Regions from separate parts of the Homo sapiens genome. Here region 2 is linked to region 1. Evidence: fine-mapped expression QTL. Tissue or cell type: whole blood. Region 1 holds a variant in brackets; the other region holds the start of a gene. All regions are shown on one strand. Distances are from middle to middle.

The links. PIP is the estimated chance that this variant, and not a neighbour inherited with it, causes the effect.
Region 2: MTAP starts here. The variant in region 1 is fine-mapped to the expression of MTAP in whole blood (TOPMed, PIP above 0.99).

The regions. Positions count from the first base shown.
Region 1 is chr9:21,848,950-21,857,152 of GRCh38, reverse strand. MTAP (methylthioadenosine phosphorylase) reads right to left here. Exons shown (of 8, transcript NM_002451.4): 6 at 2,283-2,522. Among named protein-coding and RNA genes, the nearest start is that of MTAP, 50 kb to the right of the region's middle. The variant C/T (reference allele first, on the strand shown) is at 3,888.
Region 2 is chr9:21,799,635-21,807,811 of GRCh38, reverse strand. MTAP (methylthioadenosine phosphorylase) reads right to left here and starts at 5,176. Exons shown (of 8, transcript NM_002451.4): 1 at 5,031-5,176. The coding sequence starts at 5,063. RefSeq lists a cis regulatory region at 2,602-2,603, enhancers at 2,531-2,675, 4,334-4,543, 5,038-5,666, 5,667-6,297 and a silencer at 4,834-4,993.

The DNA.
Region 1 (8,203 bases):
TTCCTACTGACCTTCCCAAAATAAACCCTCTCTTCAAGGTGCAGTTTAAATGCTTTTCCCTGATACTACCCACCTCTCAGGCCCCCCACTCCATCAGAGCCACCATCTGATGACCACCCTCTTACAAGCCAGCATTATACTAGCTTTTTTACATATCTCATTTGGTTTAATTCTTCCAGTAATCTTTCAAGGTCTAACTGACTAAACAATGACTAAACAACCTCCACTCCTCACCCAGAGCCCTGGCTTCATTCTACAGAAGAGTAAACAAGTGAAATAACTCGCCCAATGTGACAAGCAAATGGAGCAACTCAAATCTGAAGATGGGTTTAGAGAACTCCAAATCCTTTTTGCCATGCCAGGCTGCAACACACGATTGGCTGAAATAATGCCATCTTTCTGTGGGCCTTCCTTGTAGCATTTAACACTGTCTTCAAGCCTTTCCACTTACAGAGCTTAATTTCTCTGCTTTTCAATAAAGTAGCTCCAGCTGACTATTTCCCCAACCTCATTTGGCTACTAAAGGAAATCACTGCTGGTTCTACAAAGGAGGAGACATATGTTATTAGACTGAGCAGAAAGCCACAGGCAGGAAGCAAACCGCTCTCAGGGTGTGGCAGGGGCTGGAGTTTCCTATTAATTGGAAGCAGCTTCTTGACATTACGAGGCTGAGTTGTTCCTTAGGTTACCAAAGCTGCCAAATAAGATATTATGTTGTGACTTAATGTAATAATTTGCGAATCTCTTACATAAAAGGCATCCTAGTACTAAGCAAACAGTTTATTACACTGAAGAGTCATCATAAGGAATTCATGAAAAACAAAGAACCTGTGTTCATCTATGACCCAAAACACTGTACACATTAGATAGTAAAACAAACTCTCTAAAACGGTGGTACAATATTAGGCCTCTTTGGAGATGTCACTTACCCTAAATGTGCTCAGAAAGTCACCCCTAAATGTTTTCCTTACTTCAAAAGTGACTGCAGTTTTGTCGTCCCTTTATCTTAAAATGAGATAAATGACAGGACGAACGATCTAGTTTATTCAAGTAACACAAGGAATAAAAAGAGAAAGAGGTGAAAATTAGATTAAAAGAGACAAGAGGTAATCATTAAAATACAACATATGGATTGTAAGGGATTCTGATTTGATCAAATTGTTAAAAATTATGAGACTGAAGGAAAAAGGAATAGTCTGAATATTTGATTATATTAAGAAATTAATATCATTATTTTTGTACAATGATGGCATGGTTATAACTTAATTTTAAAAAGACCTTTTAGGAAAATATTTACTTCACAATGAGGGCAGGGGAGAAATAGGTAGGGACATACCTATCACACAAGATTGGCCATGGCTAATTGTGGAACCTAAGTGATGGGTACCTGGAATTCATTATATTCCACCCTGTACTTACACAGATGTTTAAAGTTTTGTTTTGTTTTGTTTTGGAAGCTGACCTCATTGTTCCAGTGTCCTCAAATTCCAGCTGGATCCTGCTGCCTTCCCTGCCTGAACCCCTCACTGTCCTTCCATCTGAAACCCTTACCATGGTCTGTATGGCCTGGCCCTACTGTATTGCATCCCTCCTCTCTCTCCCTTCTCCCCAGTCTCCCTCCTTTCCACTCTACTCAATCATGCCCTTCTTGCCCATCACACTTAAAACAGGAAGGCTTCTCATACTTCAAATATTTGGTCTGGTCAACTCTATTCAGTTGACCTAGTGTACCCTTGTACCTCACCATTCTATTTCTTTATAACCGTTAGCTTTCTTATATTGGTTTGCTTAACTTCTATCTCCATCCGACAGAATGTCGGCTCCTTAAGGACTTCTCTGTTTGTTGTCACATTTCTATGCTGAACAGAGTATCCAGCCACGGTACGTTAAATAGATGGATGTGAACATACAGCCCTCTCATGAGGAAAGGGTTAATAGATTTTTTTCCTTCTTGAAAACAAAAAACAGTAGCATAGCAGCAGAAATTGGCAATCAAAATACACCTTTATCCTGAAAATAAGGCCCAAGTCTTAGTATGATTCTCAACACATCTACCTGCCTACAATGTACTATTTTCACTACTGATCCTTGGGTAAAAGTGTCTCTTTCTTTCCTTTGATCTTTGTTCTTACCTTCCAATGGAACTACAGAAAATATTAACAACTTCAAAACCTTGTAGAAAGGCACTTTCTGAAACTAACGTAATAGAAACAAACAGTTAAGACACCCTATTGGCACCCAGAAACCCATGCTATATGTGCTTAGAAAAGAATTCCACCTACTGCTTCCTCGTGCTCCTTCCAGCAGTCATAATCTGTCGCCATGGCGATACTTGCGTAACAAATTCCAGCCTCCTTAGCAAGAACCACCTCTGGAACTGTGGTCATGTTGATAACATCCGCCCCCCAGGTGCGGAACATGAAGCTTTCTGCCCGGGAGCTAAAACGAGGTCCCTCGATTGTGACCATTGTCCCCTTTGAGTGGCACCGGAGTCCTAGCTTCTTAGCAGTCTCTATAAGAACCTAGAAAAGAAAAACCAGAAACTTCAAAACATACTAGCACATGCACAACTTAAGGCTGCACTTCCCCCCAATGTTTACCAAGTTGATTTCTTAAAGATGATTTGTCACTATAATAAATGCCTACTATCTGCCAGGCTCTCAGAAAAAACCTAGAGGACCACAGAAGGGTGTTTCCTGGACCCTTTCTCATTCACATAATCCTGTTTCCCCAGCCCTTTGCATGTAGAAACTAATAGCTACACAAGCAAGCACTGAGCTCTTTCTACTCGCCAGGCATTTGTTTATATGCTTTAATCTCATTTGCTTCTTAACAACTTTAAGAGACTAAGCTGGTTTGAGAATACAGACTGGAGTCTTAACTTTTAACCTCGCAGGCTAAGCTAAGGTGCCTCTCGTCGCTTATCTTCTCAAACAGGTGTGTTGAGTTCTATTTCCAGGCTTCTGAAAAGTTAATTCTCATTACTTTTAAAAATACAGAATCTGAAGACTTCTGTAAAAGCTTTTGCTGGTTAGAAAGTGATTTCTCTTTTGCCTATTGCCTTTCCACAGAGTTGTGCTGATTGTTTTTCTGTTCACAGGGATAAACATCTTGGAATTCCTTTAGTGGCAAGGCTAGGCATGGATTTTTAGAAACATCATTGAAAAGTTCGATCCTTTTCTCCAGTGTTTTATTTAATACTGCACATCTAATCTTCAAGTTATTAATTACCTTCATTTTTTCTTAGCTTATTCAATATTCCCTTTTAATTAAAAAAAAGTCTTTTCAACTTAACTGTTAACTTACTGAAGCACTGTTGAAAAATCATCTCTGTATGCCTTAGTTTTCTCAAGTGTAAATTGAGAATAATGATATCGCATAATTCAATTGTATGAGGAAGATTAAATGAACTAAGGTATATACAAGCATAGAAGCATGCCAGGTGCGCTGTAAACACTGTATGCACTAAGCTGGTCTTCTAACAATCATTAATACTGGCAGCTTCTACACATATTTGGCTAACCTTCCTGGGATACTATATAAATAAAGTGGAGTGACTCAAAGTCAAAGTCTCCAATCTGGGCAAAGTCTCACCTGCACATGTGTTCATCACATAAACAAATTAACCTATTTCCTTAAAAAATAACTTACACTATGCCACTGCAATGGGAAACAGAATTTTCACAAGAGTCTTGGCAACTCAAAATTTAGCAAGCTATGGACAATGAACAGTTGATGCTACATCATGTTTATCTTATAAATGCTGAAAATAAAATTATGCTTAATTAACACTTTTCCCTAAAAAGTATATGTTATAAATGCAAAAGCCTAAATCTCTACCCCACCCCCTTTTCCCCCCTAAAGTTAAGACATAACAAGCCCACTCC[C/T]GCTGGTTCAATAATGTCTTTAAAGATCCTGAATAACTGAACCATATGCTTGGCTAAAGTTCACAGTGCTTCTAGAGATGAATGGCTCTTGACAAGTCCTCACTGTCACTCTGGCACTTTGGGAGATAGGTACCATGCTTATGAGGAGGAGGAAGAAATGGAGGCTATGAATATATGTCAGCCACCTGAACCAGCATTTTGCATTCCTTCAAGAACAGCTAACACTATCTTAAGGCAGCAAAAAATATCAAATACAGGGTCAAGGTCCAGGTCTGAGTTTAAGATGATTTCATTTTCTTACCTCGTGTAATCACTGAACTACTAAACAGACGGATGTGGTAGTGAAAGTACCACAACCCTCACCAAGGAACTAGCAATATTAGATCACCAGCCTAAACAGATTTAATGTCAGGACTTTCATATTAACTCCTAAAATGAATAGAAGTAACACTGCTTTTGGAACACGTATTTGTACATGGTACAAAACTTAAATAGTACAAGGAAAACCACTGTCCCTTCCCAAGGGAAACCATTATTACCAGGCTTTTTTTTTTTTTTCATTTCAATAGTTTTTGGGGAGCAAGTGGTTTATTGTGATGTATATAAGTTCTTTAGTAGTGATTTCTGGGATTCTGATGCACCTGTCACCCAAGAAATGTACACTATACCCAATGTGTAGTCTTTTATCCCTGATTCTCCTCTCCCACTTCCCCCAGAGGCCCCAAAGTCCATTACATCATTTTTTTTTTTTTTTTTGAGATGGAGTCTCACTCTGTCGCCCACGCTGGAATGCATTAGTGCGATCTTGGCTCACTGCAACCTCTGCCTCACGGGTTCAAGCAGTTCTCTGGCTCAGCCTCCTGATTAGCTGGGATTACAGGCACCCGCCACCACGGCCAGCTAATTCTTTTCTTTGTATTTTAGTAGAGACCCCTTTCACCATCTTGGCCAGGCTGGTCTTGAACTCCTGACCTTGTGATCCACCCACCTCGGCCTCCCAAAGTGCTGGGATTATAGGCATGAGCCACTGCGCCCGGCCCTATTATATCATTCTTATGCCTTTGCATCCCCATAGCTTAGCTCCCACTTACAAATGAGGACATAACGATATTTAGTTTTCCATTCCCGAGTTACTTCACTGAGAATAATGGTCTCCAACTCCATCCAGGTTGCTGCAAATGCCATCATTTTGTTCTTTTTTATGGCTAAGTAGTATTCCATTGTATTAGTCAGAGTTCTCTAGAGGGACATAACTAATAAAGGGGAGTTTATTAAGTATTAACTCACATGATCACAAGGTCCCACAATGGGCCATCTGCAGGCTGAGGAGCAAGGAGAGACAGTCCAAGTTCCAAAACTGAAGAACTTGGAGTTTGATGTTGGAGGGCAGGAAGCATCCAGCATGGGAGAAAGATGTAGACTGGGGGACTAGGCTAGTCTCTCTTTTAACAATTTTCTGCCTGCTTATATCCTAGCCATGCTGGCAGCTGATTAGATTGTACCCACCCAGATTAAGGCTAGGTCAGCCTTTCCCAGCCCACTGACTCAAATGTCAATCTCCTTTGGCAACACCCTCACAGACACACCCAGGATCAATACTTTGTATCCTTCAATCCAATCAAGTTAACACTCAGTGTTAACCATCACAAGTCCACATGAATCCATACACATCTCCTGAGATCATACATAATCTTCAAATAAAGACAATAATAAGGTCATAATTACACGTAACATAATACAGCTATCCTTTGTGCAACTGGAAATGCACCAAACACCAACCCAAATACTACTACATAAAGTTAGCAATACTTAAATGTTGATGTGAAGTCAATAAATCTCATGTCATATGATAAAGGAGAAAGAAAATACAATGAAGATATTTTCTTAGTACAACTGTATATATGCACAAACATGTTTTTAACAAAAGGAGGAGGAAATACTCATGACAATTACAGTCCTCATTTCTGTAGCTGGTCACATGGTTGTAGCTGGTATCGATGACTACCTTCTTCTACTACCCATTCTGTATTCCCTTTGCCTTTATCAAGGACCTCAGTAGGTTGTGGTTTTTTCCTTGTGGAGTGACTGAAATCTTCATTCCTGAAGAGTCTGGGTCATTTGTAGTCCTGCCTGGATTGGGCTGTTGTAGTTTCCCAATGACCTTAATTACAGGGCATGGTAATACTAAGAGACACCCTAATGGATCTCCTGTATTCCATGTGTACTCTTCTTTACTTCCATTGTGGAGTAGTAGACTGATTTCATCTTGATAGTCTGGGTCAATCACCCCAGCCAGCACTGTAACTCCCTTCTTAGCCTGTTGACTTAAAGGCAGGAGGAGCCCAAAGTGTCCAGGTGGCAAGGATGGAGGCCATGCACGGGCACAGCAAAGTGCCTTCAGGACCTGCTTGAGCCCAGTCATATATATACCATTTCCATTTGATAACTGAATGCTGCTGTGCACAACCCACTTTATGGCTAGATGAGTCAGAAAGCCCCCAGTTCATGATAGGCAGTTCAGGTCGCATGGTGACTTGATGACCCATAGTCAAAAGTTCACTTTCCACCAAAGTCCAGTAACAGGCCAAGGACAGTCTCTCGAAAGGAGAATAGTTATCTGCAGAAGATGGCAGGACCTTGCTCCAAAATCCTAGAGGGCTCCACTGTAATTCACCTATGGGGGCCTGCCAAAGGCTCCAAACAGCATCCTTATCTGCCACTGACACCTCAAGGACCATTGGATTTGCTGGGTCATATGGCCCAAATGGCACAGCAGTTTGCACAGCAGCCTGGAACTGTTGCAGAGCCTTCTCCTGTTCTGGACCCACTCAAAATTGGCACCCTTTTGGGTCACTCAATAGATGGGCCAGAGTAACACACTCAAATGAAGAATGTGTTGCCTCCAAAATCCAAATAGGCTCACTAGGCATTGTGCCTCTTTCTTGGTTGCAGGAGAGGACAAATGCAGCAACTTATCCTTCACCTTAGAAGGAGTATCTCCACAGGCCCCACACCACTGGACCCCCTAGAAATTTTACTGAGGTAGAAGGTCCCTGAATTTTAGTCAGATTTATTTCTCATCCTCTGGCATGCAAATGCCTCACCAATAAGTCTGGTGTGTTTGCCACTTCTTGCTCACTGGATCCAATCAGCGTACTGTCATCAATGTAATGGACCATTGTGATATCTTGTGGGAGCAAAAAGCGATCAAGTTCTCTCTGAATAAGATTATGACACAAAACTGAAGAGTTGATATACCCTTGAGGTAGGACAGTCAAGGTATACTGCTGGCCTTGCCAGCTGAAGGCAAATTGCTTCTGGTGGTCCTTATGGACAGATATAGAGAAAAAGGCATTTTCCAAGTCAATGGCTGCATACCAGGTACCAGGAGATGTGTTAATTTGCTCAAGCAATGAAATCACATCTGGTACAACAGCTGCAATTGGAGTCACCACTTGGTTCAGCTTATTGTAATCCACTGTCATTCTCCCCAAGACCCATCTGTCTTCTGTATGGGCCAAATGGGAGAGATAAATGGGGATGTGGTAGGAATCACCATCCCTGCGTCTTTCAAGTCTTTAATGGTGGTACTAATCTCTGCAATCCCTCCAGGGATGTGGTATTGTTTTTGCTTTACTATTTTTCTAGGTAGAGGCAGCTCGAATGGCTTCCATCTGGCCTTTCCCACTGTAATAGCCATCACTTTACCAGTCAGGGAGCCAGTGTGGGGGTTCTGCCAGCTGCTAAGTATGTCTATGCCAGTTATGCATTCTGGCACTGGGGAAATGACCACAGGATGAGTCCAGGCACCCATAAGACCCACTGCACGTCAGACCTGAGCTAAAACTCCATTAATTACCTGACTTTCATAAGCCCCTACTTTAACTGGAGGACCACATGACAGTTTGGGTTCCCTGGAATCAACATCAGCTCAGAGCCAGTGTCCAGTAGTCCCTGAAATGTCTGATTATTTCCCTTTCCCCAGTGCACAGTTACCCTGGTAAAAGGTCGGAGGTCTCCTTGGGGAAGGACGGGAGAAAGATTCACAGCATAAATTGTTGGTAATATAGTGGGGTCCTTCCTCAACGGGACCTGGCCTCCCCTTCATTCAAGGGGTTCTGGGTCTGTAAACTAGCTCAAGTCTGGAAATTGGTTGAGGGGCTGTGAGTCTGTTTTTATAATTCAAATTAGTTTTTTGTCCATTTGACCTAGAAGTTTCTGCTTATGTAAATTAAGTAGGAATGCAGTAGGCCTCCTATGAATTTTACTTCTAGGAATGCTGTGATTAATTAGCCAGTGCCAGAGCTTTACACGAG
Region 2 (8,177 bases), 49 kb after region 1:
GTATACCCTACCACTCCTGGCAAAAATAAAAAATCAAAATAAACTTCCTCAAAGCAACAAAAAAAGCCCTTATTTCCTCCTTTTACTCTGCTGAGCAGTACAAAACCTGGCTGCTCCTACCTCTCTTCAGCAGGTAGTCTTTTTTGGGATTTAGCCTTGGGGTCCTCAACTAAATGTCAAACAGCTCTCCTGGGGGTATCTGGAAACAGGGCTATTTCTGGCTGTCATGACTAGGGGGAGTGCTACTGGCATTTCTGTGGAGGAGGTTAAGGGTTGTACTCCATGTCCTGCAATGCTTGGGACAGTCCTACAAAAGAAATAATTGTCCTGCCCAAAATGCCCTTGTGTCCCTAGGCAAAAAAAATGAAGGCTTGTTGGTCATGTGATTTTCAACTGGGGCCTGCAGGTTGTCCTCAGTTTCAGATAGCCACACAAGGACTCTCAGGCTGAAGGCCCTTGCAGGCCACACTCAAGACAGCAAAGCAGGGAGTGTAAAGGCCCATATTCCACAGTCTACAAACCATGACTTGTCCATCTCCCTTAATATCATTATGTTGATAGCTCACTACCAACCTACAATGGGACCATATCCCCTCCTTGTCACAGCAACCATGATTAACAAGTTGTTGTTATTATTATTATTATTTTGAGACAGGATCTTACTCTGTCGCCCAGGCTGGAGTGCAATGGCGCAGTCTCTGCTCACTGCAACCTCTGCCTCCTGGGCTCAAGAGATTCGCCCACCTTGGCCTCCTGAGTAGCTGGGATTACATGCGTGCAGCACCGTGCCTGGCTAATTTTTGTATTTTTTGTAGAAATGGGGTTTCACCATGTTGCCCAGGCTGGTCTTGAACTTCTGAGCTCAGGTAATCTGCCCAGCTGGGCCTCCCAAAGTGTTGGGATTACAGGCATGAGCCACCGCGCCTGGCCAAGTCTTATTTTTAATCTCCCAGAATGAAAGCTGGGAGGCTGCCCAGGGGAGCCATGGTACACTGCAGGAGCCCTCCAGAATGCCCTGTATCTGGGTGCCAAAGACTGGTTTGGCCCTCTGTCAGGAATACCACCTGCCCTTGGCTGATGCTGGAGGACAATGTCTCCCTGAGGTCCTCTCAGACAATGGCAGTGTTAATCCCATAGCCTCTGGCTCCTGCTGCCTCTCTCCATGGCTACCCCCCAGGTAATATCCTCACTCCCTGCCTGGACCATCTCTCACTGCAGTGAACCACAAAAAAGATTGCTTGAATTACTCTCACTCCAGGTGGCTTCCTCCCTCCCTCAACCTGCCACCCACTCTGCTCCTACAGCAAAGAGGCCCCTCAGCATCCCAGCCTCTGGCCCCCTAACCAGCAGTATCTGGGAGGAAGGAATCCTACACTCACCCTCCTTGGCTCCAAGGAGTCACTCGTGGCCCCTTATCGCCCACTTTGAAATGATCCACCAGTATCATCATCTTTTTGGTTTTCCAGGTCAAAAGCAGAAATCATCCTGTTCTTCTTCCTGCACTCCCCACATCTTATCCATCTCTGTGTTCTACCTGCAAATTCTATCCCCAATCTGATTATTCCTCACCACCTCCATGGCTCCCACCCTAGACTTCAGCCCCAGCACCAAGACTTCTGGCCTGATCTCTTAGCTCTTCCCCTGCCCACAGGCTATTCTGTATACAACAGCCAGAGTAATCATTTTAAAATGTAAATCAAATGCTGCCTCCCACTCTTAACCCTTCAACAGTTTCCAAAACATTTAAAATCAAAATTCTTGATCGCGGTCTACAAGGATGGCCTTATGAGCTGCATCCACCCAATTCTCACTGTGCATCCGTGATTTCCATTCCTACCACACTGAGCTCACTTCTGCGACATCTTGGTTTTCGCTCTCCTACCCCCATCTCTCTCCTCAGGTCTTCACTTGGATCTTTACCCTTTATCCCTATTTTCACTATCAGCTTAAGTCCATTCAGGCTGCTATAACAAAATATCTTAGGACTGGGTGGCTTATAAACAGCAGAAATTTCTCATAGTCTGGAGGCTTAGCAAGTTCAAGGTCACAGCAGATTCAGTGTCTGAGGAAGGCCCACGTTTTGGCTCATAGATGGTGTCCTCTCACTTAGTAGAGGGAATAAGGCAGCTCTCTGGGGCCTCTTTTGTAAGGGCACTGCTTCCATTCATGAGGGCTCCACCTTTATGACCCCAATCACGCCCAAAGGCCCCATCTTCTAATACCATCACATTGGCGATTAGGTTTCAACATACAGATTTTGGAGGCAGACTACTGCACAGCTTAAAATCCACCTCCCTAGGAGTCTTTTCTGACACCCCTCACCCAATGGAATCTTACTGCTGTTTCACTTTCATGTCAGTTGGTTTCCCACCCTGACTAGAATATAAACTTGAAGAAAATAAATAAAGGCCTCGCTTACTCAAAGCTGCATCCCCATTGTCTAGCAGGTATTCAATAAATATTTTTGAATAGGATTCCACCAGTAGATGGCTAGATTTGAAAGATATGCCAAATATACTGCCAATCCAAAACTCAGTGGAATCTTTCACTTGCATGAGTTAACTGCACCTCTAAAATTGAGAATGAATTTAAGATCCACCCCGTTAATATCTCTATTTTAAGAAGAGAGGTACTTGGGCTGACATTAAAGGAGTACCTGGAACTGGGCTGAGTGTGTTACATGTTACTGTATTTAAATCCAGCAACCTCTCAAAGGACCTGCCAGTGACACCAATGGGGTTCAGACACACATGTGCCTCCTATACCTATACCTGGGTGGTGTGCAGTGGGCACTGGAGGCAGCCTGCTTTCTGCATACCCTCTGCCTCCCTCTTCAAGATGGACATTCTATCAAGTGCTCATTTTAATTGTGCATTAGGTCACAAGAAAACAGGGCAGAGACCACACTTCAGATTTCAGAAATGCCTCACATCTAGTTGGTGGAATGCCAGGCTCTAGGCCCAATTCTGTCATTATCTAGGTCCAGCTGTGTAATTCTGGATACTTAGCTGACCTTTCTGGGCCTCAACTTTACACCCGCAAAACGGGTTTGTGTGGCTATATGGATGGTCTTGAAGGAACACTCCAGCCCCATCATTCTATAATTTGGGAATAGGATGTGGTTTTTATTAACCTATTTTGCTCTGGACACTGGCACCTCACATCTTCTATACAGAATGTTGCCTTAGAAGTCTGGGGAATACGGTGCTGGCATCATGGAATCTCTACGGCAAAGCTGTCATCTGTTCTAAATTAAAAGAGAAATCAGCAGGCAGTCCTAGCACCATATGTACCTCTTAATTTTATATCCAGAAGCTTGCCAAGACCAAAAATACACACTATTCAATATTTACATCAGGTCTCTGAGAATCCCATTGCCCATTCTGCACTTAAATGCACTGCATTAATTTGAAGGGAAACCCTGTGGCAGGGAGAATGCTAACCAGATTAAAGTAAGACTGTTTTAAACACCATTTCTCCATTTTTAATGGCGCTTGAAGTGTATTCCTGCAAGGATAAGGTGAAAAGTTGTGGCCTAATGATACCTAACACAATAACTTAATAATTTTTGGGGAAAAGATCATTCAAAATTAATCTCAGTTCCCCCACTTATAAGCACTACCACTTAATAAGCTTCTACCATGTGCAACATAGACAATATAATTCTAGCCCTCCTAGCAAATTCTGCAGTAAAATTCTCAGTTTATAGATGAGCACCTAAGAGAAGTCACATACTTCACACGAGTTTCATGAAAACCATTTCTGCCTTGTTTCCGCCAAACAATGAAGGCAGGGGAGAGGCCTTCTATAAATATTTGCTGGATGCAAGATTCTTTTCAAAATGACAAAATAAGTTTCATATATAAGTCTGGATGCAACACCCTTCACCATTCCTCTCATTCTAAGTGGCTCATTTAAACCTGCAAGGGCGTAATAAACTAATCTGGCTGATTACACACTGACCGCAGAAATTCGCCTTCTCCCGGGAAAACTGCAGTCGAGTGTAGGGAATCGAGATGCTTTGGAGAAGATCGCAGACCTTCCTATCCCATAGGCCAAAAATTTCTAAAAATCAAACAAGAACGCATTCTTAGCCAGTAATAAACTGCCTAGAAGAGGTCTTAAGTTTTATCATCAATTTTTCTTTACGTGCTGTAATTCTCTCTCGGAATACTAACCAGGAGAGAAGTGTTTAAAACCCCAGGGAAGCCAGCTGCTACTCTCAGAACTCGTGCCCTCCTCAGCACAAAGCTTCCCACCGCACAATGACCCCTTGTATCAAGGCCTCTCAGGGCCTAGGGCACAAGGAAATTGAACTCTAACTTGCAAGGCTGCAAAACAAAGCAGTTTCAAGCCAGAGGCCTCCAAACAGTGCAGCCCTAAAAACGGACGCCTGTACTCCTTTTCGAAGAAAGTCTCAGAATTCTTACAGTATTACGCTGCTGGGGAAAACTTCAGCGCGGAGAAGGCCTACGTTTGGAGGAAAAAGAAGCCGGAAGCATACAAAAGAGCAAGTAAGCAGTTCTCCCACGTGGGCCGCAGGCAACAAGCAGAGTCAGAGAGCGGAAGCTGGAGTCCCGCAAGGCACCAGGAGACGGTCACAGAAGCTGCAGGCGCCCGGACACCTCCTGACTCCAGCCGGGTGTCTTTCTTGGAAGAAGAGTGGTTCTCAGGAATGGTGGTGGCATGGGTGCAGCCTCTCCCATCCACGACCTCTCTCTCTAAAGGGGTGCCTACGCCCTACAGGGTGCGGGTGCAGATAAGCCAAAAGGTGGTGTGTGTGTGTGTGTGTGTGTGTGTGTGTGTGTGTGTGTGTGTGTGTGTGTTGGCGGTGCGGCAGGGGGATCATTTGCAAGCGTACCCTCTCCTCGCGCGGCAAGTGAGTCCCGAGTGCCGCGCCCCAGTCCCTCCCCGCGGCGGCAAGGGACGCACGGGCCGGGCGCATGGCCCCCGGAGGCGCGGTCCCCCGGCGCGGGGGCGAGAAGGCATCCGGCAGGGCGAACCGCTGCGGCTGGGAGGGCTCATCTCACCTTCACGGCGGTGGTGGTGGTGCCAGAGGCCATGTCTGCACGGGAAAGGAATCTGCAGTGGGCGAGCGCTCGGGACTAAGGGAACCAAGCGAGCCACAGAGCGGTGGCTGTGCCAACCTCACTGCGCGGGAGTGAGCAGTGCGGAGACCAGGGGCGGGCCTTGACTCCTCCTCTTCCTCCCCGGGACAGCTGGATTGGCTGCTTGTGTGGGATCTCCCCCGCCACCCCTTCCCCAAATCGAAGTTCCCGCGTTCCGCCCCTTTTGCAGACCTTTCCGGTTCTCCAGGTTTTTGTCGTTTTTTTTTTTTTTTTATCCCCAGTTATAACTAACGGATAATGATAATAATGGAGACCATTTATAGAGCGCTGTATTGTTCCAGACTGTGTGTTTTGCACTTTAATTGGCTTACTTAACTTTCGCTAAAACCTTATAAGGAAGAGCAGCACTCCCTGCTTGGCCCAATATTAGTGGCGTCGGAGGCCTCAGCTGCAAAATCTGGCCCGGCGGCATTCCAGAAGTTCTCGCGGGAGGGAGAATCCTCACCAAGGCGGGTACTGGCCGGCCACGGAGATTCTCTTAGGCAGCTAACGCGGGGCGGCCGCCGCGGCGGGGGCAAGATTTGTCCTTCCTGCGGCTGCGAACCCACCGCGGGTTTGCGTATTTCCCTTGATTCCTGGAGGACAGAGCTGGGATGGACTTGACCCAAGACTCAGGGATGACGAAAGGGAAATAAACAGAGTAACGTAGTACTGGATAATCTTTCTGATTTACGAACTATGATTTACTCATCTTCAATTTGAGGGGCCGCTTTTAGGGGGTTGAGACCTTGCACAACTCCCAGTCTGGCTCTACCTGGCTGGGGGCATCTTTAACCCGTTCTACGCCGGAGCGGCATCGAATACACCTGGATTCAGAATCCAAACTCAGGTCTCCGTCATTCAACACTAGCAGGACGCACACACACACACACCACGAGCCCTTTACAGGGATAATCCCTCATGCTTACAGCCCCCGTCCCTTCCCTACTGGGGTAATCCAATTTAACCTTCCTTGATGGATTAAGCGTTCTGAAACAAAATAATGGGTGGCAAGGATCTTAAGGGTGGACTCTGAGATGTAGAAATGCTGCAAATTAGCCTGGACGTGGGAGGAGGGCCGAGAAAGGGGATGCTTTCCTCTTTCCTTACAGCAGCAAAACACGGAAACAAAACACAAGTACAATTTAATTCAAAATACCACTGTGTGATGTTAGCCTGGATGCTGCTCATAGAACCTATTTACTTAAACAGTATAGACTTTCGTCCTCACATTACTATAAGCTTTAGGTCTAAATTTTCTCACAATGTAAAGTTTTCTTTCTTCTGTTACAATCATCTATTTCTTTTAAGTTATAAAATGCAATGGCAAAAGAAGAATGAAAGTAGAATCCGGGTGCTCCTTTGAGGAATAGGAGACAGGGAATCCTTCGCGGATGAAGACAATGTAGCTTTCTAGGGGCCTTTCTGCCGATTGCTCTATTGAGGAGCAGGAAGCCCACCACTCAGAAGTGAACCATTGAGGGCACAGGGATGCCCTAGGCTTTATGGCCGCTACCTAAGTAGGGGATCCTAGCCAACTTAAGTGACTTGATATGGTTAACAAGTCCAGTTTCTACTCAGCACTGCCTCTCTGCTAAAAGTTAGACGTTGTAACCAAGTTAGATCCTGTAAGCATAAAATACCCCTAGGCATAGGAGTTGGAAACTTGGCGAGGACCAGGCTGGACTTCTGGACTTTTCTACTATAACTTGCAGGTTAGGGCTCAAGCATTTGCTCTTGAAGATGTGATGTCTGTGAAGAGGAAATTCTTCTAAAGTTTGAATTTCATGTAAACTTACATGTGACAAAATATTATTCTACTTTTGATATTTTCTCAACCACTTAAGATTGTAAAAAAGCATTCTCAGTTCAAAGCTGTACAAAAACAGGTGGAGAGCTGGGTTTGGTCGAGGTCTTGGGCCATTGTTTTCCGCTCAGGGTAGTGCCTGAATCAGACGACCCCTTGCTACCCAGACTTGGATAACCCTTGGGCAGTCCTGTGGGACAGTGCTTTCTTTAGTGCAGTATCTTTGAAAAGGTAGGCAGTAATATTTTTGCCTTATTTCCAAATTTTGGGTCATGTTTTTTCTTAACAAGCCCTAAAATAAAAGGAAGACAAAATTTTCAATAATTTTGAATACGCAAAAATTTTCAGTGGTCTCCCTTTTTGATTACTATGTCAACAAGACAAGGAGAGTCGGTCTATTTGTGAACATAGATTTTGCCCTGCCCTTCTGTTCTTATCCTATAAATCCCCCTCTGTTAACCTGTACCCTTGCTTTTCTAAAGATAATTATCAAGAACTAGGTCACCTTACAACAATTCTGATTATGAAACAGTATAAGGATTCCAACAGCTTCTCCCTTTTTGATAATCTCTCATAAATGTCTTCCCAACTTCTAGGTCCTAGCCAACAAAGTACTGAAATGGTTATCACCAGTAGCTGACTATGTTGGGTCTTGAGCAGTGGTTCTTCAGTGTCCTACAGTTCCCTTTTACTAAACATGTTATTTTTGAAGTCGTCTCCAAACCATTCCAGAATCATCAAATCTTCAGGAGGAAGTATTCACACAAATGCATGAAATGTATCACCTCAGCCAACCATATCAGCTTTCCCACTGAATTGTTATATTTCTGCCCCTGACCAGTATGTCTGTCCTGGATGGGTACTACAAAATGGGCCCAAGCTGGCTGGTAACCCATCCTCATCTGAAGGTATTAAAGCTGGCAAGTTGTCATGGCCTAAGAAACTCACATAACTCCCCACTACCTTGTAGATATTTGGGCCAAAATAAAAATTCTAAATAACATGGAGGTGTGCTTAGAGATCCCCAATGGTGTGTGAATCACATCTTTTTACAATACACCTGTATCACAGCCACAATGAGTAGGGACATTTTGGCCACTACTTTTGACAATGGATTAGATTCCCACATTGGAAGCTTTGTGAAAAAGCTAAAGTTCTATTAGCAAGCAGCCACTCTAGATTTAGCAGAACATTGTTGAAAAAATATCTGGGGGAACAATAAGTAAACTAATTATAATAATGACAGTAATACATTTTAAAAA